Linked DNA regions of Homo sapiens. The protein of the gene in region 2 purifies or fractionates together with the protein of the main gene of each other region. This does not show direct contact. Each region holds a gene or a part of one and is shown on either strand. Other genes may lie near its edges.

Evidence for each region.
Region 1: the proteins of RAPGEF5 (region 2) and HERC1 purify together in Homo sapiens (affinity purification with mass spectrometry; 2 studies listed by BioGRID and IntAct, with this or other methods). This does not show direct contact.
Region 3: the proteins of RAPGEF5 (region 2) and RIPK1 purify together in Homo sapiens (affinity purification with mass spectrometry; one large-scale study listed by BioGRID and IntAct). This does not show direct contact.
Region 4: the proteins of RAPGEF5 (region 2) and FLNC purify together in Homo sapiens (affinity purification with mass spectrometry; one large-scale study listed by BioGRID and IntAct). This does not show direct contact.
Region 5: the proteins of RAPGEF5 (region 2) and WNK1 purify together in Homo sapiens (affinity purification with mass spectrometry; 2 studies listed by BioGRID and IntAct, with this or other methods). This does not show direct contact.
Region 6: the proteins of RAPGEF5 (region 2) and PRKACB purify together in Homo sapiens (affinity purification with mass spectrometry; 2 studies listed by BioGRID and IntAct, with this or other methods). This does not show direct contact.
Region 7: the proteins of RAPGEF5 (region 2) and PPP2R5D purify together in Homo sapiens (affinity purification with mass spectrometry; 2 studies listed by BioGRID and IntAct, with this or other methods). This does not show direct contact.

The regions. Positions count from the first base shown.
Region 1 is NC_000015.10:63,659,449-63,662,948, reverse strand, and holds part of HERC1 (probable E3 ubiquitin-protein ligase HERC1), read left to right. Parts: intron 1-927; coding exon 928-1,196; intron 1,197-1,923; coding exon 1,924-1,976; intron 1,977-3,012; coding exon 3,013-3,213; intron 3,214-3,500. UniProt on the Homo sapiens protein: Involved in membrane trafficking via some guanine nucleotide exchange factor (GEF) activity and its ability to bind clathrin. Acts as a GEF for Arf and Rab, by exchanging bound GDP for free GTP.
Region 2 is NC_000007.14:22,305,155-22,308,654, reverse strand, and holds part of RAPGEF5 (rap guanine nucleotide exchange factor 5), read left to right. Parts: intron 1-147; coding exon 148-316; intron 317-3,500. UniProt on the Homo sapiens protein: Guanine nucleotide exchange factor (GEF) for RAP1A, RAP2A and MRAS/M-Ras-GTP. Its association with MRAS inhibits Rap1 activation.
Region 3 is NC_000006.12:3,081,994-3,085,493, forward strand, and holds part of RIPK1 (receptor-interacting serine/threonine-protein kinase 1), read left to right. Parts: exon of another isoform or gene 1-667; intron 668-1,091; coding exon 1,092-1,320; intron 1,321-3,265; coding exon 3,266-3,415; intron 3,416-3,500. UniProt on the Homo sapiens protein: Serine-threonine kinase which is a key regulator of TNF-mediated apoptosis, necroptosis and inflammatory pathways.
Region 4 is NC_000007.14:128,836,906-128,840,405, forward strand, and holds part of FLNC (filamin-C), read left to right. Parts: intron 1-254; coding exon 255-352; intron 353-492; coding exon 493-643; intron 644-731; coding exon 732-850; intron 851-1,081; coding exon 1,082-1,159; intron 1,160-1,361; coding exon 1,362-1,524; intron 1,525-1,697; coding exon 1,698-1,898; intron 1,899-3,117; coding exon 3,118-3,255; intron 3,256-3,500.
Region 5 is NC_000012.12:902,579-906,078, forward strand, and holds part of WNK1 (serine/threonine-protein kinase WNK1), read left to right. Parts: intron 1-3,500. UniProt on the Homo sapiens protein: Serine/threonine-protein kinase component of the WNK1-SPAK/OSR1 kinase cascade, which acts as a key regulator of blood pressure and regulatory volume increase by promoting ion influx.
Region 6 is NC_000001.11:84,199,771-84,203,270, forward strand, and holds part of PRKACB (cAMP-dependent protein kinase catalytic subunit beta), read left to right. Parts: intron 1-2,912; coding exon 2,913-3,035; intron 3,036-3,500. UniProt on the Homo sapiens protein: Mediates cAMP-dependent signaling triggered by receptor binding to GPCRs.
Region 7 is NC_000006.12:42,987,570-42,991,069, reverse strand, and holds part of PPP2R5D (serine/threonine-protein phosphatase 2A 56 kDa regulatory subunit delta isoform), read right to left. Parts: intron 1,460-3,500; coding exon 1,382-1,459; intron 1-1,381. UniProt on the Homo sapiens protein: The B regulatory subunit might modulate substrate selectivity and catalytic activity, and might also direct the localization of the catalytic enzyme to a particular subcellular compartment.

The DNA.
Region 1 (3,500 bases), on a different chromosome or scaffold from region 2:
TTTTCCTGCCCTCCTGTTCATATAGCTTACTAACAGCAGCCTTGCCTAGAGTTGAAACACTCTAAAAAGTCTTTTATCTCATCCTGAGGTTTGGGGATTTAAAGTTATGAGGTTACTTTGATACCTACAAACTAATAAGGAAAAGTCTCTCTTGCTTTCTCTGTGGGATTTTATTGTTTCTCTCCCCAGACAAGATGAATAGAGTCATACTGTGGTAATATTTGATTCTGATGTCAAAGATAAATTACAAAACAAGCATCAGGTTCCAGTAGACGTTGACAGGTTATATAACATGGCTGCTGTGCTCACATTGCTATCTGAATGCATGTTCTTCTCCTTCATAGGTTCCATTTAATCAATGTAATGCCTTATTCTAGGAACCAGTGCTCACCTAGATCTTGTAAATACCTCCATTTAGGGGCAAGGTACATGGTGGATTTGTATATACATTGGTTAGCATTACATTTTTGTAGTAGGGAGACCAAAAAGCTCATAGATGTAAGTCCTACAGGAAAGAGAATCTGCTATATAAATAAGTGAATCATAATGATTTTTCCCAAAAATTCATAAAGTAGGTATGCATTTTGTGACCAGATGAAAATTAGTTCTTTTCACTAGTGGAGTTTTTTTTTTAAAAAGCCTCATTTTGAGATAGGACAGATTGTCATGTTCATTAACTCTTCTCAGTAGGATACTCAGTTACTTGTATTATTGATATAACTTATTAGAGTGAGAGAGGGCAAAGAACACCTTCCGATTGTGTTATCTGAATTCTGATTTGAAAGAAATTTTTTATTTAGCATTAATGAACATGTTGGAAATATTCTAGCATATGTAATAAAGTAATTTAATATAAATAATCTACTTGGTACTTCTTGGTTTTATGTTAAATTGACTAATCATTTGGTATGAAATCCTTTTGTGCAGCATGTTTGTGAGTCTGAAGACAGGGAAGAAGTGGTGGTGTGTGAACTGTGTGAATGCAGCGTCGTCAGCTTCAATCAGCACATGAAGAGAAACCATCCAGGCTGTGGGCGCAGTGCAAACCGCCAGGGCTATCGCAGCAATGGTTCCTATGTGGATGGCTGGTTTGGCGGTGAATGTGGGAGTGGAAATCCGTACTACCTGTTATGTGGCACCTGCAGGGAGAAGTACTTAGCCATGAAGACCAAATCTAAGTCAACAAGTTCTGAAAGGTACCTTGAAATTGTGTAGATATCCAGACCTCCTGAAGATACCTCATACCTTAAGTCTTGGGAACTGTAGATTTTTCACGTGAGGAGTTACATTTAACCTTCCCTGAAATCCCGTGATTCTTACACTTTGGGCAGAAGGGATGGAGGGGTTTCAGAAATTCATGTTCCCAGGAATAATGGCATAGCAACATATCCTTCCCTGGAGTTTGACTGTGTTAACCTCTGACTTGTTGGCAAGTAATGGTCAGGACCCTTGCCTTAACCCTCAGGAGGCTTCTACTCAATTCTTTTCATTTGTATTTTCTACCATATTTCTGGCATTTTAATTAAGATCTTTTTCCTGATGAAAAAAACAGACTTTTGATTAAACGAGTTCCATAAAAATATTATCTCTTTACATCCTTAATCCCTAGAGAGTAGGTTTGTTGCCCTTAATTGTCAACTATTAAAATCTTTAAGGCTTTATGGAATAGAATTTGGTTAAAAGAGTTGTTTTAGGTAACCCAGAAATCTCCCCAGTAGTTTGGTAAAATAATCATTGATTTTGTAAGCATGTGTGTACCTACATACCAGCAGTTTTTATTATGTTAGCCTATAACATGAAACATACTTTTTTATTTTGTGCTGCTTTATTAATGACCTCTTAAAATGTTCTAATGACTTAATTTGCATCTTGGGGTACTAACTGTTTTATATAAAAATGCAATGTTCTTCATGTTTGGTGCAGGTACAAGGGACAAGCTCCAGATCTAATTGGCAAGCAAGACAGTGTGTATGAAGGTAGTTTGTTTTGAGAGCTTCTTTATTTTACATGTTTTTTTATATATCCTCTCTGCTTAACATCTGTTACTAAAATTCACCTTCGTGTGTGTGTGTGTTTGTATTTGTGTACATGTTAACTTAAATTTTCCCTTAAAAACTCAAGGGAATTTAATAGCAACAACGCTGGTTTAAAAGTCAAAGGAAAAGAACGTGGTTTCAAAGACCAACTTTACCACAGAATATTAATTTCTATTAGGTGTATTTTTTTTTCAAAGTAGGGAAAGGATGTGGTATATTTTGAATTTCCACCCTAATTGTGGAAAGTAAAAAATAAATAGAGATGAGCATTGATTTTTCTGGAGCACTCATTTTCTTGAAATAACTCATTCCCTAATGATTACAGACAGCTAAGAACTCTTTGTTGGACCCATGACAATATTTTTAATTAGTTTAAACCTCTATTACCAGCTGTAGCATTTGCTATTGCTGTCAACTTATTTAACTACATTGACTCCCTTTCCCTGAGAGTCTCACTTATGCTTCAGGAGTGCAGTTTGGTTAAGTTTTCAGGAGATGGTGCCATAGTTCATTATGTGGTCACTGGACTTTCAGTCCATCTGCATTTTATGTATGTATGTATTTATTTATTTATTTATTGTTTTTATTTCTTTGAGATGGAGTCTCACTCTGTTGTCCAGGCTGTAGTGCTGTGGCGTGATCTCAGCTTACTGCAGCCACGGCCTCCCAGGTTCAAGCAATTCTCCGGTCTCAGCCTCCTGAGTAGCTGGGATTACAGGCACACACCACCATGCCTGGCTAATTTTTGTATTTTTTGGTGGGGATGGGGTTTCATCATGTTGGCCAGGCTGGTCTCAAATTCCTGACCTCATGTGATCCAGTCGCCTCGGCCTCCCAGAGTGTTGGGATTACAGGCGTGAGCCATCGCATCTGGCTGCTCATCTGCATTTTAGATGTATTTTCAGAACAACCATTGCCAGCAGATTTATGTAATATTTAAATTCACATACTATACATTTATTTATTTAAATTCCAGAAGACTGGGACATGTTGGATGTTGATGAAGATGAAAAGCTAACTGGTGAAGAAGAATTTGAATTACTTGCTGGACCGCTTGGTTTAAATGACCGGCGCATTGTACCAGAACCAGTTCAGTTCCCTGACAGCGATCCACTGGGAGCATCAGTAGCAATGGTCACAGCCACCAACAGTATGGAAGAGACTCTGATGCAAATAGGTAAACTGAAATCCTGATTTGCATTGATTTTATAGCATCTACTATAATTTGTTTCTTAGATAGGTAAATAATAATAATAAAGTAAAAGTAAATAAGACTAATGGTTCAACATTATCTCACCCCAACAAGTCTCTTTAGCCAGTTGTTTTAACATTTTGAAGGTATAATGTGGTATTAAGTTTTGGCTGGGCTTGGTGGCTTATGCTCGTAATCCCAGCACTTTGGAAGGCTGAAGAAAGAAGGTCGCTTGAGGCCAGCAGTTCAAGACCAGGCTGGGCAACATGGTG
Region 2 (3,500 bases):
ATAAACATGAATGAGCTTAGAATGTATAATTATAGTCTTAACCCTGATTGCTCCCAATTATTAGGGCTTTCAATTTATCATTTGAGTTATTACTCTCTGAGTAATATCTTTTAAAAAATTGATCTATATATTTTTTGTTTCAAACAGTGGACCAGCATCTATACTTTCAAGATACTTATGTTTTCTACCAGTTTTCCTCTGATGAATGTAGCTACTTGTACTGTGAATTTGAAAGAGAAGAAGAATGGCAAAATGGTGTCAAGCTTTTACTGCAACTTGTGCCTCTCATTCCTGCCAGAGGTGGCATCTGTGAACTGTAAGTAGATGCTCTCTTGTGCCATTGTATTCTTACACTTAGACAACATTTACCATGTCTAGGGACTATATTCTGCTCTTTAAGATCACTGTCTCACTTAAGAGGGAGTTACTATCCCCATTTTTCAGATGCACATTTAGAAAGATAAAATAAATTGCAGAAAATTAAATCCAGCTAATAAATAACTGGTATTTAAATCCCAGAAGCCTATGCCTAACCATCTGTACCATGTGGTTTCTAAATTATCATTGTTATAGGAGTAGATGATCTAAATTAAGAAAAAACATATGATTGGGCTTAAGTTGGAATAAAATAGTAACTCCCATCCTATTCGCTATCCAAATCGTGACTTTCCTAAGAGCTCAACAGAATGTTTCTGAAAATAGTCTAGAAGCAACATTTGGCAAATTAAAACACGTGAATCATCACATGAAGATACTGAATCACTATATGATTAAAATGAATTAAAATTAATTAGGGAAGGCTTGGGAACAGGACTTGAGTCATGATGTGGTGATTCTGACATGACTTTGTTTATCCATGGTGATAGCTTATTTTAGAATTATGAGTTATGGATTAAAATTTCAGTTAAAAACTGTTACATATGCAGAACACTTCAGTGTCCAGAATGCTTTCCCATATTGTTGACTCTTTCACTTCTATGATATTAGCGGGGGCAAGCAGTATGGTCTTTATGTCATAGATAAGAAAGTAGGTTCAGAGAGAAATACCTGTATAACCATAACAAGGGTAACTCTTATTAGTTAAAAAAATGACAGTTGACTGTTGAGAAGGAGGTGGAGCAAGATTAGGGAATTGAAGTCTCCACCAATTGTCTCCCAGGCAGTGACCCTAATTTAACAACTATCTACACAGAAAAAAAGACCTTCATAAGAACCAAAAATCAGGTGAGCACTCATAATACCCGGTTATAGTTCCATATTGCTGAAAGGAGCACTGAAGAAATAGAAAAAACAGTACTGAATCACTGATACCACCTCACCTCCACCATTTACACCAGCGTGTACAATAGACACAAATAAAATTAAATACCTAGGAACTAACCAGAGAAGTGAAAGATCTCTGTAATGAAAACTGTAAACACTGATGAAAGAAATCCAAGAGGACACCACAAATGGAAAAAATATTTCATGTTCATGGATTAGAATAATCAATGTTGTTAAAATATCCATATTACCCAAAGCAATCTACAGATTCAATGCAATCCCAACCAAAATACCAATGACATTCTTCCCAGAAATAGAAAAAACAATCCTAAAATTTATATGAAACCACAAAAGATCCGGAATAGCCAAGGCTACCCTAAGCAAAAACAGCAAAACTGGAGGAATCACATTACCTGACTTCAAATTATGCTACAGAGCTATAGTAACCCAAACAGCATGGTAATTGCATGAAAACAGACACATAGACCAATGGAACAGAATGGAGAACCCAGAAACAAACCCACACACCTACAGTGAACTCGTTTTCAACAAGGTGCCAAGACATGCACTGAGGAAGACACAGTCTCTTTAATAAATGGTGCTGGGAGAACTGGCTATCCACATGCAGAAGAATGAAACTAGACCCCTATCTCTCACCATATAAAAAATCTAATCAAAATGATTTAAAGACTTTTAGAGCTCAAACTATGAAACTACAAGATTGGGGAAAATTTTCAGGAAATTGATCTGGGTAAAAATTTCTTGAGCAATACTCCACAAGCACAGGCAACTAATGCAAAAATGGACAAATGGGATCACATTAAGTTGAAGATCTTCCTGCACAGCAAGGATACAATGAACAAATTGAAGAGACAACCCACAGAATGGGAGAAAATATTTGTAAGCTACCCATCTGGCAAGGGATTAATAACCAGAATATATAAGGAACTCAACTCTATAGGAAAAAATCTAATGATTCAATTTAAAAATGGGCAAAAGATCTGAATAGACAGTTTCTCAAAAAAAGACATACAAATGACAAACAGGTTTATGAAAAGGTGTTCAGCACCACTGATCATCAGAGAAATGCAAATCAAAACTACAGTGAGATATCATTTCACCCCAGTTAAAATGGCTTATATTCAAAAGACAATGGCTTATGTTCAAAAGACAGCAATTACAAATGCTGAGGAGGATGCAGAGAAAAGGGAACCCTTGTACACTGTTGGTGGGAATGTAAATTAGTACAACCATTATGGAGAACAGTTTGAAGTTTCTCAAAAAAGTAAAAATTGAGCAACCATAGTATCCAGTAATCCCACTGCTGAGTGTATACACAAAAGAAAGATTATATATCAAAAGGATACCTGCTTTCCTATGTTTTTTGCATCACTGTCCACAACAGCTGAGATTTGGAAGCAACCTCTGTGTCTATCAACAGATGAATGGATAAAGAAAACGTGGTACATATACACAATGGAATACTATTCAGCCATAAAAAAGAATGAGAGATAGTCATTTGCAACAACATGGATGGAACTGGAGGGCATTATGTTGAATGACATACGCCAGGCACAGAAAGACAAACATTGCATGTTCTTATCTGTGGGGTCTAAAAATGAAAGCAACTGAACTCATGAACACAGTAGAAGGATGGTTACCAGAGGCTAGGAAGGGTAATTGGGGACTAGTGGGGAGGTGTGGATGGTTAATGGGTACCAAAAAAACGTTAGAAAGAATGAATAAGGCCCACTCTTTGATAGCACAACAGGGTAACTATACCAATAATAACCTAATTGTGCATTTTAAAATAGCTTAAAGAGTGCAATTGGATTTTTTGTAACTCAAAGGATAAATGCTTGAGAGGATAGGTACCCCATTCTCTATGATGTGCTTATTTCACACTGCATGCCTGTATCGAAACATCTCATGTACCCCGTAAATATATATACCTACTCTGTACCCAGAAAGATAAAAAAAGAGAAAAAATAAATAAAATCTCCTGTTAAATGACAATACTGAATAGTTAATATGGACTGTTTTTAGGAGAATAAGCTTCAGAATATTGATGAGACTGTGCTAATAGAAAGGTTGATTGTGGAGAATGAATTTTAGGTCAGGCACTGTGCTGAATGCTTTATATTCATTATTTTACTTTCAGAAGAATGTTATAAGACAGGTACTATTATTATCTCTATTAAATAAGAGGGGAAATTAGGTACAGAGATCGGGTAACC
Region 3 (3,500 bases), on a different chromosome or scaffold from region 2:
TTCCTTTGAACACATTCTTTCCATTGTCGTAAAGGGAACAAGGGAAAGGGATTTTTCTTTTGTTCATTCAAGGGCAGGATTTAGCTAGGGGGAGTGTCATATCTAATTGGCTTCTGCAGCAGGAATCCAAGCACAAGAATCCAAAAGGGGAAGCGGAAGGGGAAGCAGCCCTGGGGGAGGCACCCAGGAGCTGCTGACACAGGGGCCTCTCATCACCAGCAGGTTCTGCGTCTAGCGCTTTGTCCTAGTCTTGGACAAAGGGCTGGGAATAAAAATTCCTTATTCATAACCTATCTTCAAATTCATGACTTCCCTCTTATGTCGTGGGTTAGAATCTGTGAATTTTAGGTACTCATGTGCCACAGTTCATCCCCACATGCTTGCTTGGATTCCTGGAGGCAGAAGTGGAACTGGCACCTATATTCTCTTCTGAACTGTGCTGCCCTGTCATTTTGCCCTGCCAGCACTGTTCTTGTTCTGTGTCTGACCTTGCTATTTTTCTCTCTGCTTTTTTGTCTGTTTTTCTCCTCCTTTCCACCCTATCTCCTCTTAGGTTCAGGCTACAGCTCAAAACAAGCAACACTGCAGTCCTTATCCTCAGTGTGTCTTTGGGATCCTTGGACACTTGCATCCATGGGCCTCTGGACGCCATTTGGGGAAATAGAAGGTGTAGTATTTAGCCACTGTCTGCTGCATAAATGTGCAGAGAAGAAAATAACCATTTTCCCCCCAAGCCCTAGAAATAGTTGAAAAACATACGCAGAGTCAATGGGGAATGAGAATAAATATGTTTGGTTGTTACTGTTCTTGTCAGAAACATCTTCCGCTTTTCCCCTCCCCCTTACTGCATAAGGAATACGATACCAGAATTTCATGTGAACGTTTCCTGGGCGACATTTTACAAATGGCTGAGGAGACACACAGTTTCTATGAGTCTGTTGAGAAGTCGCTGTTTTGAACCTGCCCAGTGCAACCATTTCTGGAAAATTTACCGTACCTTATGTATAATGGATAAGCCCAAAATTGAAAGTCAGATCTGATTTGCTTACGGCCTTCACCAAACAATCCCAGTGGCTCAATGTCTTTCGCAGATCGCAGACCTCGGCCTTGCCTCCTTTAAGATGTGGAGCAAACTGAATAATGAAGAGCACAATGAGCTGAGGGAAGTGGACGGCACCGCTAAGAAGAATGGCGGCACCCTCTACTACATGGCGCCCGAGCACCTGAATGACGTCAACGCAAAGCCCACAGAGAAGTCGGATGTGTACAGCTTTGCTGTAGTACTCTGGGCGATATTTGCAAATAAGGAGCCATATGAAAGTAAGGCATTACTTACTTTCCACTGCCGTCCCCTCAGCATCTACACGCACTGTGCCTGGAACTAATAGGTGCCCAGTAAATTTTTGTTGAATGAATGAGTAATCCCATTTAGGAATCAGTGATCATAGGATGAATAGGAACCTCGATAGTGTGTCATTAGCTGGAGAGGTGCTGTGAAATTCCAGGGTTCTTCCTAGACAGGAAAGTTGATTGTTTCTGCTTGTGAGGACTTAGCCTTTCACACTACAAGGCATACACTTCATACTTTCACTCATTCACTTGCTCCTTCATTCAAGAATTATTTCTTTTCAGTCCCTACTGTGGGCACTTGAGTCGGCATTGGGAATATAAAGATGAGTAAGTCGTGGCTTGTGTAGGATAGAGACACTCTGCAGTTTGTTAAGTGCATAAACTGATGGATGTTGTCCTACATACTCTTCTTGGGTGATCATCAGCTCCCATGGTTTGATGATCATCTCTTTGCAAATGCTTCTTAAATCTGTGTCTCTGGCTCTGGAATGGATATCCACTTGTCTTACAGTCAGATCCATCGCAGGTACCAGAGGAACCTCCAAAGCAGCATCCCCCAAACACATCCTGTCGACACTGTCCTGCAGCTCGCCCCGCTTCACCCCTCTTCATATGCTTGGGAAGTGGCATCGCCATCCTTTTACCAAGTTGTTGCCCAATAAGAAACTTCAGAGTCATCCCAGACTCGCCCTTGCCCCTCTCTCCCACATTCTATCAGATCTCAAAACCTGTGAATTCAAGATATATGTATGACTCAAGATATATCTGCAACCCATCTGCCTTTCTCTGTCTCCACTGGCCTCTGCTCAGTTCAAACCCTCCTCGTTTCTGCAGCAGGCTCCTTCCACCGTCCACCATTCATGTGGCAGCCAAAATGGTCGTCCTAAAAGGCACATGCAACCCTCTCCCTCACATATTGGAAATCCTTCCCAGATGCTCTGTGGTCTTCAGGATGAAGTTCGAATTCCTCAGCGTGGAATAAAAGGCCTTCATGTTCTGGCCTTTGCTTCTCTACTGGCCTCGTCCCTAACCCTCCCTTCTTTGTCAGTGTGCAGTTACACTGAGGAATTTGTGGGATGCGTCATGATCTCTGTAACTTCTAGTCTGTTGATATCCTGCTTCTCTTCCTGGAGTCCTCCTCCTTAAGTCTCCCTTTCCCATTCTTTACCTGCTAATTTTTCTGGACTCAACAAAGCCTTCCTGGACCTTTTTAGTCAGGTTTGTGCTACTGGAACCCCTTGTACATCCTTTTTTTTTTTTTTTTCCCGTGAGACAGAGTCTCATTCTGTCGCCAGGTTGGAGTGCAGTGGTGCAGTCTCGGCTCACTGCAGCCTCCACCTCCCAGGTTCAAGCAATTCTTCTGCCTCAGCCTCCCGAGTAGCTGGGACTACAGGTGCACACCACCATGCCCAGCTAATTTTTATATTTTTAGTAGAGACGGGGTTTCACCATGTTGGCCAGGATGGTCTTGATCTCTTGACGTCATGATCCGCCTGTCTCAACCTCCCAAAGTGCTGGGATTACAGGTGTGATCCACCATGCCCAGCCTCAGCCTTCTTGAATAGCAATGATCACTCTGTGTTTTAAGTCACTCTCATTAAACTGAGCTCCTAAAGACAAGGACTGCCCTGTATTTGCTTTTGCACATGGAGCATGCCATTGGCCTTGCCCACATAATCTTTTTGTTCCATCAGCAGGCAGCTTTGTCGAGAATTTTGTTTTATCTGCAGACATTAAGATATTGTTTGGTCATCTCTGTAGTGGAATATGTCAGCTCCTTGTCATAAGGCCATTCCACTCTATGGAATGAGGCAGCTGTACCAGAGGCTGAGAAAAATGAGCAGTATTGTTCAAGTTCTGTCACCTTCCTGCCTGAGAGAGGAGCAAGACCTGAAAGAAAGTCTTTGCTTTGTAGATGCTATCTGTGAGCAGCAGTTGATAATGTGCATAAAATCTGGGAACAGGCCAGATGTGGATGACATCACTGAGTACTGCCCAAGAGAAATTATCAGTCTCATGAAGCTCTGCTGGGAAGCGAATCCGGAAGCTCGGCCGACATTTCCTGGTAAGAGCATCTTTTCTGACTGTGTAGGATGCATCCTGTGTGGTGATTTTCCTAGTAACATATTGTTAGGAACTTGGTTTGAATC
Region 4 (3,500 bases), about 110 Mb from region 2:
CAGCAGGGCTGGTGCCAGGCTGCGTCAGCCAGGGCAGAAAGGCTTCATTGTTGGTGGTGGAGAGGGCTGTCCTGCTCCTACGTGGTGAGGGGCCTCGAAGCTGATGGGGTCAGCAGGAACCTGGCTGGTCAAGGCCTAGAGCTGGTGGGAAGGGGTGTAAAGCCACAGCCTCTGAGGGTGTTGGGTGAACAAATGCCCTGCATCCTGGCCGGCTGGCTGCCCCTCACCATCGTCTCCCTCCATCACCTCTCCAGGTCTCTGCCCCGACTGGGAGGCCTGGGACCCCAACCAGCCCGTGGAGAACGCCCGGGAGGCCATGCAGCAGGCCGACGACTGGCTTGGGGTGCCCCAGGTACATGCGCAGATGGGGCAGGGGGGAAAGGGGGCAGGGGCAGAGGTTGGGTCTGTAAGTTTACCTGGCCAGGGTGCAGGGGGAGACTGGGGCTGCTGGGAAAAGAGGGCGCCATGTGACATCACTCCTTTCCATCGCAGGTCATTGCCCCTGAGGAGATTGTGGACCCCAACGTGGATGAGCATTCTGTTATGACCTACCTGTCCCAGTTCCCCAAGGCCAAGCTCAAACCTGGTGCCCCTGTTCGATCCAAGCAGCTGAACCCCAAGAAAGCCATCGCCTATGGGCCTGGTATGTGTGAGCCCCTGGCGGCCCTCCTGGGCAGCTGGGCACATGTAGGCTCTCCCTGAGTAACCTGGGCTCTGCTCCTGCCCCGTAGGCATCGAGCCACAGGGCAACACCGTGCTGCAGCCTGCCCACTTCACCGTGCAGACGGTGGACGCGGGCGTGGGCGAGGTGCTGGTCTACATCGAGGACCCTGAAGGCCACACCGAGGAGGTATGCAGAGGCCGCTGGGGACAGAGGGATTCACTTGGGATTGGAACCAGAGAGCGTGGGGCCAACAACAGGAATGGCCCGGAGGTGACTGCCAGAGCCACACACTGTGCTGTGCAGTCTGGGGAAGGTGTCACCATGGGGGCTGAGTGGGGCTGGGGTGCATAAGGCACTGTGGGGTCAGGAGGGGCTATGGTCATTGGAGAGGCTTCCAATCTTTTTCCTTCCTAATAGGCTAAGGTGGTTCCCAACAATGACAAGGATCGCACCTATGCTGTCTCCTATGTGCCCAAGGTCGCTGGGTTACACAAGGTATCTCCCTCTAGGCCCCCCTGCCTGCGCTGCTCTTCACATCCTTGGTTCCGGCTGCATGGACCCCTCTCTCAGCCTGTACCTCGCGCCTGCCCAGAGCCCCAGCTGCCCGCCTCTCACCCTCCTTGGCCTGGCTGTGCCCCTCTGCCCCCTCTCAGGACTGCTCTCCCCTAGAAGCTAACCTTTGACCTCTGACCCCTAGGTGACCGTGCTCTTTGCTGGCCAGAACATTGAACGCAGTCCCTTTGAGGTGAACGTGGGCATGGCCCTGGGAGATGCCAACAAGGTGTCAGCCCGTGGCCCTGGCCTGGAACCTGTGGGCAATGTGGCCAACAAACCCACCTACTTTGACATCTACACTGCGGGTAGGACGGGCCCCAGGGGGTGCAGGTGGAAAGCCCCTGACCATGTGGGGCTGTGTGGGGGTGGGGGGAGGCTGGGACAGGGATGCCAGCCAGAGGGTGGGCAGCCTCAGGGTGAGGGCACCGGGGCAGCTGTGTGTGTCCAGAGTGGTGCTGACAGCCTCTGTTTTCGGCAGGGGCCGGCACTGGCGATGTTGCTGTGGTGATCGTGGACCCACAGGGCCGGCGGGACACAGTGGAGGTGGCCCTGGAGGACAAGGGTGACAGCACGTTCCGCTGCACATACAGACCTGCCATGGAGGGGCCACATACCGTGCATGTGGCCTTTGCGGGTGCCCCCATCACCCGCAGTCCCTTCCCTGTCCATGTGTCGGAAGGTAAGGGCCCTTCACTGCTCCCCACGGTAGCCCTTACCAAAGCCAGAGGCTTGCAAGGGGCAGGAGGAAGAGCTGGGGCGGGGGTCTGCAGAGACCCCCTCCCTGAGTCCTCCATCCCACCCCCAAGGTGGCTGGAGTTCCTAAGAGCACAGCTGGGAGGCCACAGTGAAGGGTCCCAGAACATGTGCCACCCTGGGAGGGCTGAGCGGAAGTGACGGGGCTGTATGGGTGGGGGCATATCTAGGGAGTACTGCCTGCATGCCAAGCCCTCAGGTGGTGACTGCCCCACTTGTTCTCTCCCTGCACTCAGTGCCCATCGTCCACCAGGCCGAGAGTGATGCCACATTAATGCTCTCCAGTGGAGGCGGGGCCAGGCATGGCCGCAGCTGACTGGCCTCACCTGTGCTGTGTGGCATGGCCCGGGCCGTGTGGAATCGCCCCCCCTTCCTTGGCATTCTGTGGCAGGCCCCAGGTTCCATGCCGTTGTCTGTGTTCTGTGGCAGGTCTAGTGTCTTTGCCACTTGCCTGGTGATTTCTATGATGAAATCTGGGCTCTGAGCCATTGCCTGTGTTCCGTGGTACCCCTTGGGCAGTGCCATCGCCTATGGTCATGGTAGTCCTGGAATATGTGTCGTGTCCTGTTTCGTAGCACCTGTGGGTCCCATGCCATTTTTCTGGATTCTGTGGCAGGCTGAGATTCCCATTCCTTTGCCTGTGTTCCATAGCAAGGCCTGGGCTCATTGCCACTGGCCACGGTCTGTGGTAGGCTGATGTCCACACGTTGCCTGTGTTGTATGGCAGGCTTCGAGTTCTATGAAGTAGCCCTTGTTCTGTGGCATTGCTGGATGTTTTGTGGCATGACTTAGATCCTAAGGTTGCTTTGGTGCCCTGAGAGGCCCAGAGGGCTCTAGATGGATGGCCTTGGGCTGGGTAAAGGGGCCTTCCCTGTCTCTCTGAGCCCACTCTCAGCCCAGGCTCTGCCATGCATTTCCCCAGTGGCACTGGCTCGGAAACTTTCTTGTAACCTGCCTGATCTGGGGCCTGTAGCCAGCTCCAGCCCGGCAGCCCCGGTTGTGCTGGGGACACAAAGGGCTCCAGAGCAGGGCCGTGGGCCACTGCCTGTGCCTGGGAGGGGTTAGAAGGACTGTGCACAGGGAGGTGGGGGCTAGTGGTCCAAGGCCCCTCAGCACCCCCAACCTCCTTTCTCTTCCTCCCCTAGCCTGTAACCCCAACGCCTGCCGCGCCTCTGGGCGAGGCCTGCAGCCCAAGGGTGTTCGCGTGAAAGAGGTGGCTGACTTCAAGGTGTTTACCAAGGGTGCCGGCAGCGGGGAGCTCAAGGTCACGGTCAAGGGGCCAAGTGAGTGCCAGAGCCCAGGGTCGTGAGGGTGGGGCTGGGGGATCATAAGGGAAGTATGGCCAGTGGTTCTGACTCCCAGAGGGCAGTGACAGCCAGCACCACAGCTCCACAGTGACCAGAGGCACCCCAGAATCTCAGGCTCATTGTCTCCTCTCTGCCTCAGTTTCTTGGTCTACAAGCCAGGAATGATTCTCTCCACCCTAAGTGCTATACGGGGTGTTATGCACAGGGATGACAAGTGTTCC
Region 5 (3,500 bases), on a different chromosome or scaffold from region 2:
GCCCAGCATCTGCAAGTGAAAATTCTCCTTCTAACATGATTTCTGGGATTTTGCAGCTTTCTACTTAAAAACAAGGCACAATAGCAAGTCACCCCATCTTCCCCATATGTGAAATGGAGATGATGCCAGTGTCCTAGGGCCATCGTACAAATCAAGCTAAGATCATGTACAGAGAAACAGGTAGCGCTTGAAAAGCACTCATGGTTTCTCTCTGATGAGTCAGTGCCTACCTGGCACAGAACAGGTAGTCAATAACTGTTCGTGGAAGAACAGTTTAAAACAAACAAAAACATAGTTCAAGTAGAAAAACCTTTGTTATAATTTGAATAAAGATCTTCTCTGTTAAGGCCTCAAACTTCTGATGTGATTATTGAAGTGCTTTTTACATGCATGTGCTCAGGCCATCACTGTTTCTGAGTATGGGTCAGAGGCCCTTGGGCCTCTTCACGGTGGGAAGAATTTACAACCTCCCTTTGTTCTCTGTAGTGACTAGATTTAAAGCGAAGCATATGACACGTTTAACTGCCATTTCCCTCACACATACCCCTGTTATTTTTACCTGCATTAGAAATGGATTGGCTCCTTCCAGCACCCCTATTATTTGTACCTGTATTAGTAATGAGTTAGCTGTACTTGAGAGGCAGTCTTTACTGACTTTCCCCACATGCACTAGTCCCAGGCTGTTTAACAAAGAAGCGGGTGGAAGGCATTACCCAATTCGATCGTTTTCCAGGCTTGTGTGATTTTTTTTTTGAGGACTCAGATCAATAATTTTTCTGGTCAGACTTTCCTGGACTGTGCATATTAGCACTTTGACAGTTGAATAAGCATTTAATTTGCATGTCCACCTAGAAAGTTGCAAGGGGGGTGTTTTTGAAGTAGAATGTGACATGTCAGGCCTATGGTCTACAGCCTGAAGTGTCTGAGAGGGAAGAAAGAGAACCAAAGCTTCTGTTTCTGAAATATAATGTGACAAATACCACTTTAATTAAATTCCATAAATTCTCATCCCACTTTTAAAGGTAGGTGGTATTACCCCTGTTGTTCAAATGAAAGTGGTCAGAAATATTGAATCTTGTCACTTCCCTTTGGGTGCAAAATGAAAGGCCCTACATCCTTAGAAGTCACATCAGGATACATCATGTAAGCCTGGTAAACAAATCCCAAGAGACATACTTGAAATATGGAAAGGAAACAGGTACTTGAAAGAGTAGGGCACCTTACTAGCTTGAGATGTATTATTCTATGCTCTCAAAATAGATAATGGTTTGGAAGCACGGCTTGGCTTACTGCTATATTTATGTTCAGAGGTTGCTTGTTTTCCACGTACTTTTAAAAACTATTCTGGAAGGGAAGGGGTTAGTATATATATGTGGGATGTGGAAATATAATAGCCAATTTAAATGAACTTAAAGCTGTAACAGTGATACTATCAGTCTACTGTGGTGGGGTTGCTAATGCATTTAACTGAGTGCTTTTTAACAGCCCAGCTGGAGAAACAGGAAGTGGGACAGGATCAGTGGAAACGCTGCTTGGGTATTTGAAATTCAAGCAGTGAGACCTGAGAGACTGGAGTTCCTCGCCAATTCCAGAACCTCAGTGCAGGGCATTACTCTTTTAGATACAAAGATTGGGTGTAGAAACTCCACATCTGTCAGCCACGTAACACAGCCCATCAGATAATCATGTTAAGGCTAACAGCCAGTTCGAAACATTCTGTAGAACTATATCTGTTCAAGGGCTACCAGGTCCTACCTATCTGTCTCACCTCCTGCTTTCTCTTGCTGGGCGTTTGTGTGCTGTTTGGAGATTCTAAATATTTTACACTGATGTTTCTTTATCTTTAACACATTGCTTCTCTCTTTGTGCTTCAGGGAAGATGGTGAAAAAAGTCTGTCCTTGCAACCAGCTCTGTAGTAATTATCTTTTCTGTTATTTTTGGTCCTTGATTGCAAAGCCTGTTAACCATGAGTTCTTTCAACTCTGCAGTCTCATAGCTCCCTGATTCCTAACTTCCATCTATCTCTGTATCCTATTCTAATAAATATTTAACATGCTTAATTGAGAAATCATCTCCTAGTCGGTGCCCTCAGTGATAACCCCATGTGAGCCTAGCTTGTGACAGACATGGATTGGTAATGGCCATGGGTATATATAGGGAGGTCAGGGATGCCTAGTTCCTATGGGAGAGCGATCCTTTGGTCAGCAAATATGTGCCGGGCAGTGTTATTACCCCAACTGGAAACTCAGCAGTGACGAAAGCATACAAAAGTCCATGCCCTCCCACGTTCACACTGAAGTGGGAGATGTGTGCTAGATTGACGAGGAGAAAAACACCACTTTCTAGAGTTTGTCTTCTTAGACTGTGGCTTCTCATACTTTAATGAGAAGGCCACTTACAGTGTTGTAGGTAGGGTCAACAGGGAAATTCTGTACTTGGGATGTTGGGCTGTAAGTTATGGTTCATAATAGGTTATTGTTAGTAGGATCTGGTGATGTGGGAATAGGGGAAATGTATTATAATGGCAGGAGGAAATTTAAAAATGAATCTTGGGGGTAAGTCTATACTACTTATTAGGGCTTTTCAGAAGAACTAAAAAAGGTTAAGAAGTTAGCATATTCTCTCAAAGGCCTTTCTACATCTTTTATAGTCAAGTCTCCTTTTCTTAGGAGTTAATTTCTGGTCAGAAAATGATAGGTTTGTTTCATTCTTTAATGGGAGGCCTGTATACAGAAGCCAGAACGTGAAGGTTTAGCTGTATGGTTGACTCTTCCTCATGGTTTCTCTTTCCTCATAGAGAATCCTGTATTAGGTAATGTAGGGTAAAATGAAAAGTGAAATTTCGTTCTAAAGGGGCCTCGCAGCATCAGGGGCGACAGACTAGAGAGGTGTGTCTCCCAGCATGAGCTCTGTGGATAAGCAATGGTCACGCCTCCTGAGCTTCTTGTATTTAGCTTTTGACAGCTCTGCTCCCCTGTGATTATTTCTGTTTTTTGTTTTGATTGTCTCTCACATCAAGCTCACCAAGCAATAATTGTTCAAACAGGATGACAATCCCCATGCATGTGATATGCTTGCTTTCTAGATTGAGTCACTCACTGTCATGACTGCCCATCCTCATTGCCTGTGCTTCCCACTTCACCACTCTCTCACATTGGCTGTTCATGGAAGGCTGTTTTCTGTGCTCTCATGCTTCTCCCCTCGCGTTTCCTGTACTGTAGGGAGCTTACTCTTCCCTTCACACTGTATGTGCAATAGCAATCCCCTTGTGGCTCCAGCAGACACCAAGAAATGAGCTGACACTCACACTGCAGTAGTTCCGTGTCTTGCCATAGCGGTAAGAAGCATGTGACCTTCCTCACTGCAGCTTCACCTCAGAATTAGCTGTTACTGCAGCACAGACCTGCTTGTGTGTGCCATTCCCCAGGTGGTAGGATATAAGCTTGACTTGAGACCAGCGATGGTCAGTAACAGGCTTTGAAGTGGCAGGATTGCGTTA
Region 6 (3,500 bases), on a different chromosome or scaffold from region 2:
AGTGTCTAAGTGTTCACTTTTCTCTGCAACCTTGCCAGCATCTGTTATTTTTTGACTATTTGTTTATTTATTTATTTATTTATTTATTTTCTGGAGATGGAGTCTTGCTCTGTCGCCCAGGCTGCAGTGCAGTGGCGTGATCTCGGTTCACTACAACCTCTGCCTCCTGAGTTCAAGCGATTCTCGTGCTTCAGGCTCCCAAGTAGCTGGGACTACCGGCATGCACTACAACACCTGGTTAATTTTTGTATTTTTTAGTAGAGACAGGGTTTCACCATATTGGTCAGGCTGGTCTTGAACTCCCGACCTCAAGTGGTGCACCCTCCTTGGCCTCTCAAAGTGCTGGGATTACAGGGGTGAGCCACTATGCCCTTCCATTTTTTTACTTTTTAGTAATAGCCATTCTGACTGGTGTGGAATGGTATCTCATTGTGGTTTTGACTTGCTTGCATTTCTCTAATGATCGGTGATATTGAGCATTTTTTCATATCTTTGTTGGCCGCATGTATGTCTTGTTTTAGAAAGTGTCAGTTCATGTCCTTTGCCCACCTTTTCATGGGGTTGTTTGTTTCTTGTAAATTTGTTTAAGTTCCTCATAGATGCTGGATATTAGACCTTTGGCAGATGCATATGGTTTGCAAATATTTTCTCCCATTCTGTAGGTTGTCTGTTTACCGTTGATAGTTTCTTTTGCTGTGCAGAATCTCTTCAGTTTAATTAGATCCCACTTGACAGTGTTTGCTTTTGTTGGAATTGCTTTTGGTGTCTTTGTCATGAAACCTTTGTCCATTCTTATGTCCAGGGTGGCATTGCCTAGGTTGTCTTTCAAGGTTTTTATACTCCGGGGTTTTGCATTTAGGTCTTTAATCCATTTTGAGTTGATTTTTGTATATGGTATAAGGAAGGGATCTATCTTCAGTCTTTTGCATGTGGCTAGCCAGTTATCCCAGCACCATTTATTGAGTAGGGAAACTTTTCCCCATTGCTTGGTTTTGTCAGCTTTGTCAAAGATCGGGTGGTCGTAGGTGTATGGACTTATTTCTGGGTTGTCATAGTTGAAATCATAGTAAATATATATAGTCTTGTCTCTGACTTTTTTCACTTTTATAATAACAAGCATGCAAACATCATTCTAATGGCTTGTTTGTAAATGTACCATAAAATATGTAGCCACTCTTCTATCGTTGAGTGTTCAGGTTTTATTTTTGATTTTTTTATTATTATAAATAACTATGATAAACATCCTTATACATAAAAGTTTTTTCCTTATTTTACATTATTTCCTTAGCATATATTCCCAGAAGTAGAATTACTGGGTCAAGGAATAGGAACATTTTTAAGGCTTTTGATACATATTGCCAAATTGCTTTCCAAAGTTATTATGCCATTTTACACTTCTACCATTAGTGTATTATAGTGCCTATTTCATAACACTATCACTGGGTATACTCATTTTTAAAATATTTACTGATTTCATAGGCAATAAATTGTATCTCATTGTTTTAATTCTCATGTTTTTTATTTATTTTTCAAATGGTTAATAGCCATTTGGTATTTCTTTATGTGTCTGTAAATTATTAGTTCATTTCCTTGGCCCATTTATCTATTGTAATTTAACATTTTTCTTATTGATGTGTTTTGATTTCTATACCTTGGGTATTAACTTGTGTCTGACATATTTACTATAAACATTAGCACACAATTTAAACATATGAATCAAAAAGTTAAAGAGAGTTAATGCCTATTTCTATTAAAAAACAAAGTGCTATTCCTGTTATACCACTCCTTCCCTTAAAAAGATATACACAGTATCAGGAAAAAAAAGAGAAAAAGAAAATCTCTATAGCGCTAAAGTATTATATTTTTGCTAGAATTTTGAAAACTAAGTAGTTTGTAAAGCTAAAATTTTGACAAAAGGGTGGAATGTGGTGAGTCGTGATGGTAGAGGGTACCTCTGAGGGCAGAGCAATAGATCTGGGTAGAATTCAGCTTATTTCTCTTCATGACAGGTTTTTGGGGTTGTTAAAAAATCTCTTGTGTCAGTTGATACTGACCATAGTTAATAAACTATATTAGCATGTTAATATGAAGATGTTATTCTTATTTATTTTCTTATGAATACTTACAAATTTTAATTTTAGTAAGCTTAATATGAAAAAAACAAACATAACCTGTGATTTTTACATTTGGTTTGCAAAGCACTTTTTACACACGTTACTCCCTTTCATTTGATACAGTCCTCACAAAACTCTGTGAATTCATTTTTTTCCTGCATATCTTTTAGATATAGGAAGCAAGACAGTAGATAGCAGAAGTAAAGTATACCTAAATATTTACATGAATTGAATTTTACATTAAACTTTTTGCTTTCACAAAATCCTATGAAGCAGATGGGATTATCCCTAGCACATTCACCCTCCTAACTCCAAAAATATAGAGTATTTTGAAGTCAACTTCATTATTTACTATGTAGTCCAGTTTCTATTATTTTCTTTGAAAACTTTTGATCTTTCTAGGCATGCTGTGGAAAATCTGTTTCATAAGATTATGGACCTAGAGTGGGCCTTAAGAAGTAATGTGGTCTAACTGCCTTCCTGTTATTGAGCAAGAACTAAATTATACCAGTGAAATAAAGAAAATTTCATTGTCTATAATATTCTTAATAATTTTAGGAAGAAGATTTAATACTCTTTCCTAATATCCAATTTCAGTATCTGGAAATCCTCTCCTTTGTTTAATTTAAATCTGACCTGATACATTTGGTTCATTTTTAAATTCTGTCCTGAATAGCTGCTCAGCAATTGCTTTAAAAAAATTTTTATATGCTTCCAGATCATTTTGAAATTATCTTTGACTTCATTCTCTTTTGAGTAACTTAAGTAACAATTGACATTGGTGTTGGTTTATCTCAGGGCTACAATAAGGCAGTGGATTGGTGGGCATTAGGAGTGCTAATCTATGAAATGGCAGCTGGCTATCCCCCATTCTTTGCAGACCAACCAATTCAGATTTATGAAAAGATTGTTTCTGGAAAGGTAAGTAAAACATTTTATTATTCCTCTCTTATTACTGTATATGAATTTTAAGCTTCATGAATTGAAACTATATTGTGTCATAATTATTATTCTACATTGGGAAAAATATAGAAAAATCTACAGTTGCTGCTCTTACTATCATAAGAATTGAATCATTTCAGTCTCTTAAGAAAAAAAGGGCAGTTTTATAAAGAAATTAACAAAACAGTAAAGCAATTTCTGTATTTAGTATTTTTATCACAAAGAACAGGATCATAGCCATAATTCTCGATATTCCTTCAAATAAATAAAAATAGTTTATTATTTCATGTGTCTATCTTCATGGAGAAAAGTTTTAGGGGCTGTTTTATATGCCCTTCCATTTTCAGGAGAGACTTCTTGTTTTAATTATGTCCAATACTATAACATTGGAAGTAAAAGTAAATATAAAATGAATAAGCCTTTTTCAGATGGAAATTTATAGAA
Region 7 (3,500 bases), on a different chromosome or scaffold from region 2:
ATCGTCACAGAGCTGAGTGATAAGGATTATTAAGGAGATATTTAGAATACCGCATAAGGGCCGGGTGCAGTGGCTCACGCCTGTAATCCCAGCACTTTGGGAGGCTGAGGCGGGTGGATCACCTGAGGTCAGGAGTTCAAGTCCAGCCTGGCCAACATGGTGAAACACCGTCTCTACTAAAAATACAAAAAAATTAGCCAAGCATGGTGGCATGCGCCTGTAATCCCAGCTACTCAGGAGGCTGAGGCAGGAGAATTGCTTGAACCCGGGAGGTGGAGGTTGCAGTGAGCCGAGATCGTACCATTGCACTCCAGCCTGGGCAACAAGAGAGAGACTCCATCTCAAAAAAAAAAAAAAAAAAAAAAAAAAAGTAGAATACTGCATAAGTGCAGAGGAAAGAATAATTCCTCTTCTGTGGTCCTCAACTTCCATGCCTATAAAATGGGGAAAACCTACTCAGCTTCTCATTACTTAAATGAGGCCTAAAATGAGGTGTGAAAAGTGCTTGTATCTCTTTAGAGGTGACCTATCACCAGAAGTACTGAGAAACATCTAAACGCATAGTTAACCCCAAACATTTGCTCATCAATCTCTTCTCCCAAAAAACCATAAGACCTGTCCATAACTAGAGAGCTGTGTTTCCAGTTCTCTTTCATCCCTCTGAACAGTTTAGAGCAGAGGGAGAAAGCAGAGAAAGCACCAAACACCAGTTTCCAGGTAGGATGTGGTGGATGCTCGCTGTGTATGTTCACAGGATCTTTCACCATCCAGAGCATCCCACTGTGCACACTCCCAAACTTTCATGGACATACTGTGTACTTCCTTAAGTCTCTCCCTCTTCTGGTGTTCTCTCGGCTTGCTGTTTATTGCTTTATAACCCGAGATTGCTAAGCTGCGCTGAACTCTGCTCAGGACTGTCTTTTAGTCATGCTGCCATTCAATCAGGACCAAGGGCAGTGGGCCCAGCTGGGCCCAACTCAGGGACACCAGCCCCTCCCAATCCCCTGCCCCACCCGAGCCATGCTGAAGTCACTTGTTACCCCATCAAGTGTCTGTGGACTTTTCCCCTTTTGCCCAGGATCCCAGAACCTCCCGCTTTTTGCCCTAAGAAAAAGGAATTCTCAACATTCCAAGTTGGTAAGCAGAGAAACAACTTTCATAGGAATCTCTGGGGAGTCTGAAGAACTAGAGAATGTATTTGGTCTATACCAACCAAAGGTAAATCCTGCCTGAGGGCAGTCTGGATGGGCTGTCCAGGTCCCTCCCAGGATATGGAAGCCTTCCCTTCTGCCTCACCCCCTGGGATCCCCTACCCAACTAGCCATCATGGAGTTGCGGGTGGCACCTGCACCACATCTAAGGCTACGCCTACATTCATTACCTCCTCAGTGTTCTCGCCTCCACCATCCTTGCCCGAGCTGCTAGGCTTGGCTGTGCATTTGGCAACCTTGGGGGGCTCCTGAAAGGAAAAGATGAAAGTAAAGTTAGCAGATGCCAGGAGAAGGGAGAGGTCTTATCTGGCTCCCTTAGATCTTTGTTGCAAATATCCTCTGTCCAGTTGAATCAATCAATTAGAATCTACCTTGTGCGGAGCTGGGGTGGGTGGAGGGATCTACGCAGAAGGAGATTCAGCCCCTCCAAAGAGTTTAGAATCTGGTTAGGAAGTCACCCCAAACACACACTAATTCAGCGTGAGAATGCTCCATCTTTCACCTCATCAGGCTGGTGCAGAGGTTGGGCCTGGGAGGGCCTTTGCTCAGGTCAGAACCAGGGTGAGGAGGCTTAAAGAAAAAGCATCAGGGAACAGCTGCTCACTGGTTTCTGGCTAAAGTGGTCAAAGGTGTGCCGGAGGCTTTCATGCTGGAGTGCAGGGAGTCACCACTCTCCCCTCACAGCCACCTGGAAAGACTGGGAGGCAATTTTTGGATGTCACAAATAGCGCACAGACAAGAGGGTGCTACTCAGCATTTAATCAGTAAGGCCCAGGAATGCTAACAGGTACAGAACTGTCCCACTCAAAATGCCAAGAGCACCTCAGTTGACAAGCACTAAGACAGGGATGGGGGTAAAACCCTGAACTGTTACAAAGAGTGAGCACTAGTCTGAAGTCTCCTTTGGGAACCTGGCAGCTGGCTCAGAGCCCTGGCCTGCCCAGCATCTCTTCCTATGCTTCGAGCCAAAAAAAGCAACTGCACAGGGACAGGATAGGGAAAATGTGAAAAAGACTTGGGGATTTAGGTCTGACTGCAAGCTCAACACAAATCATCCATGTGCAGCTCATGTGACCTTCCATCTTGTTAAAAGACCTGTGCAGACTGCTTGGCACTGACAGGGCTATCCTGGAGGATCTGGTTCAGTCATGAGCATCAGGCTTGGGAGGGGCCATGACAAATCCTAGTGTTTCTTAGAGGGAAATGCAACCCATACTGGGAGTGGATTCAAAGGCATGTCCCAAGACCAACAGCTGCAGGAACTGGGATAGTTAACAATGGAAGGGAGGAGTCATGAGGGATGGAGAAGCAAGATGGATCTTAAACAAATGAAGATGCAACTTGGATGCCTTGGATGCAACTTGTCCATATGGACCAGAGGCACGAGAGCAATGGGCTGAAGTTGCAAGCCACCTGAAGCTCCAAACAAGGAAGAATTTTATCATGGAGCAATTGCACTAAAACTGGCCACCTAGTGAAGCCGAAAGCTCCCCAACCCCTGAGAACATTCAAGCAGGGGCTTGGTGACCTCCTGTAAGGCATGTTGCAAAAGAAATTCAAGCCTTTAATGAGGACTGGAGGATCTTGGAAATCACTTCCAGCTCTGAGATTGTGCAATTCAATAGCAGCCAAGCCCCTTCAGTGAGAAGTGTTAAATCGAGTTATTGTGACTATGGGGGCAAAAGGATTTCAGGGAGAAGAGAGCTCTGTGTGGGCTGGAGTAGGGGGAAGGCTTCTTGGAGGTGGGGAGGAAGAAAGGTGTGGTGTAGAGCAGCTCCATGCAGTAGGGGGAAGGAGTTCCTTCTTTGGCCTGAGCACGCTCCTGCTGTATACTAACCCAGCTGGCCACACTGACCCTTATCAGTGGCTGAGAGCATGGGGTGGAGAGAAATAGGCCGGGGGCAGGGTGCAGGCAGGACACAACATTGAGGTGTCTGCACACACCCCAGACATGAACCCCTTGAACAAAGCTGACCCATCTTCATACATCTCCAATCTATTAGACCATAAGCTGCTTATTCTTTTTTGTACCCCTCCACCCACCCTACAGCACTCAGCATGATGCCTCAGACGTATCTTTCAAAGAATGAGCCTAAGAGAGATCCAGCTGCCTTAGTGTGTGGGTGTGAGTGGGCATGGAGGAACCAGGCCTACCACCCTTGCTCCCTGGCTCCTGCAGAACAGGTGAAGCACACACATTTCAGCCCAGCTCAGTAGTCAAATGCTGTGTAGCACAGAGGTTAAAAGAACATGTTTGGACTCAGCCCTGTGTTTTGGGCCCAACTCTTA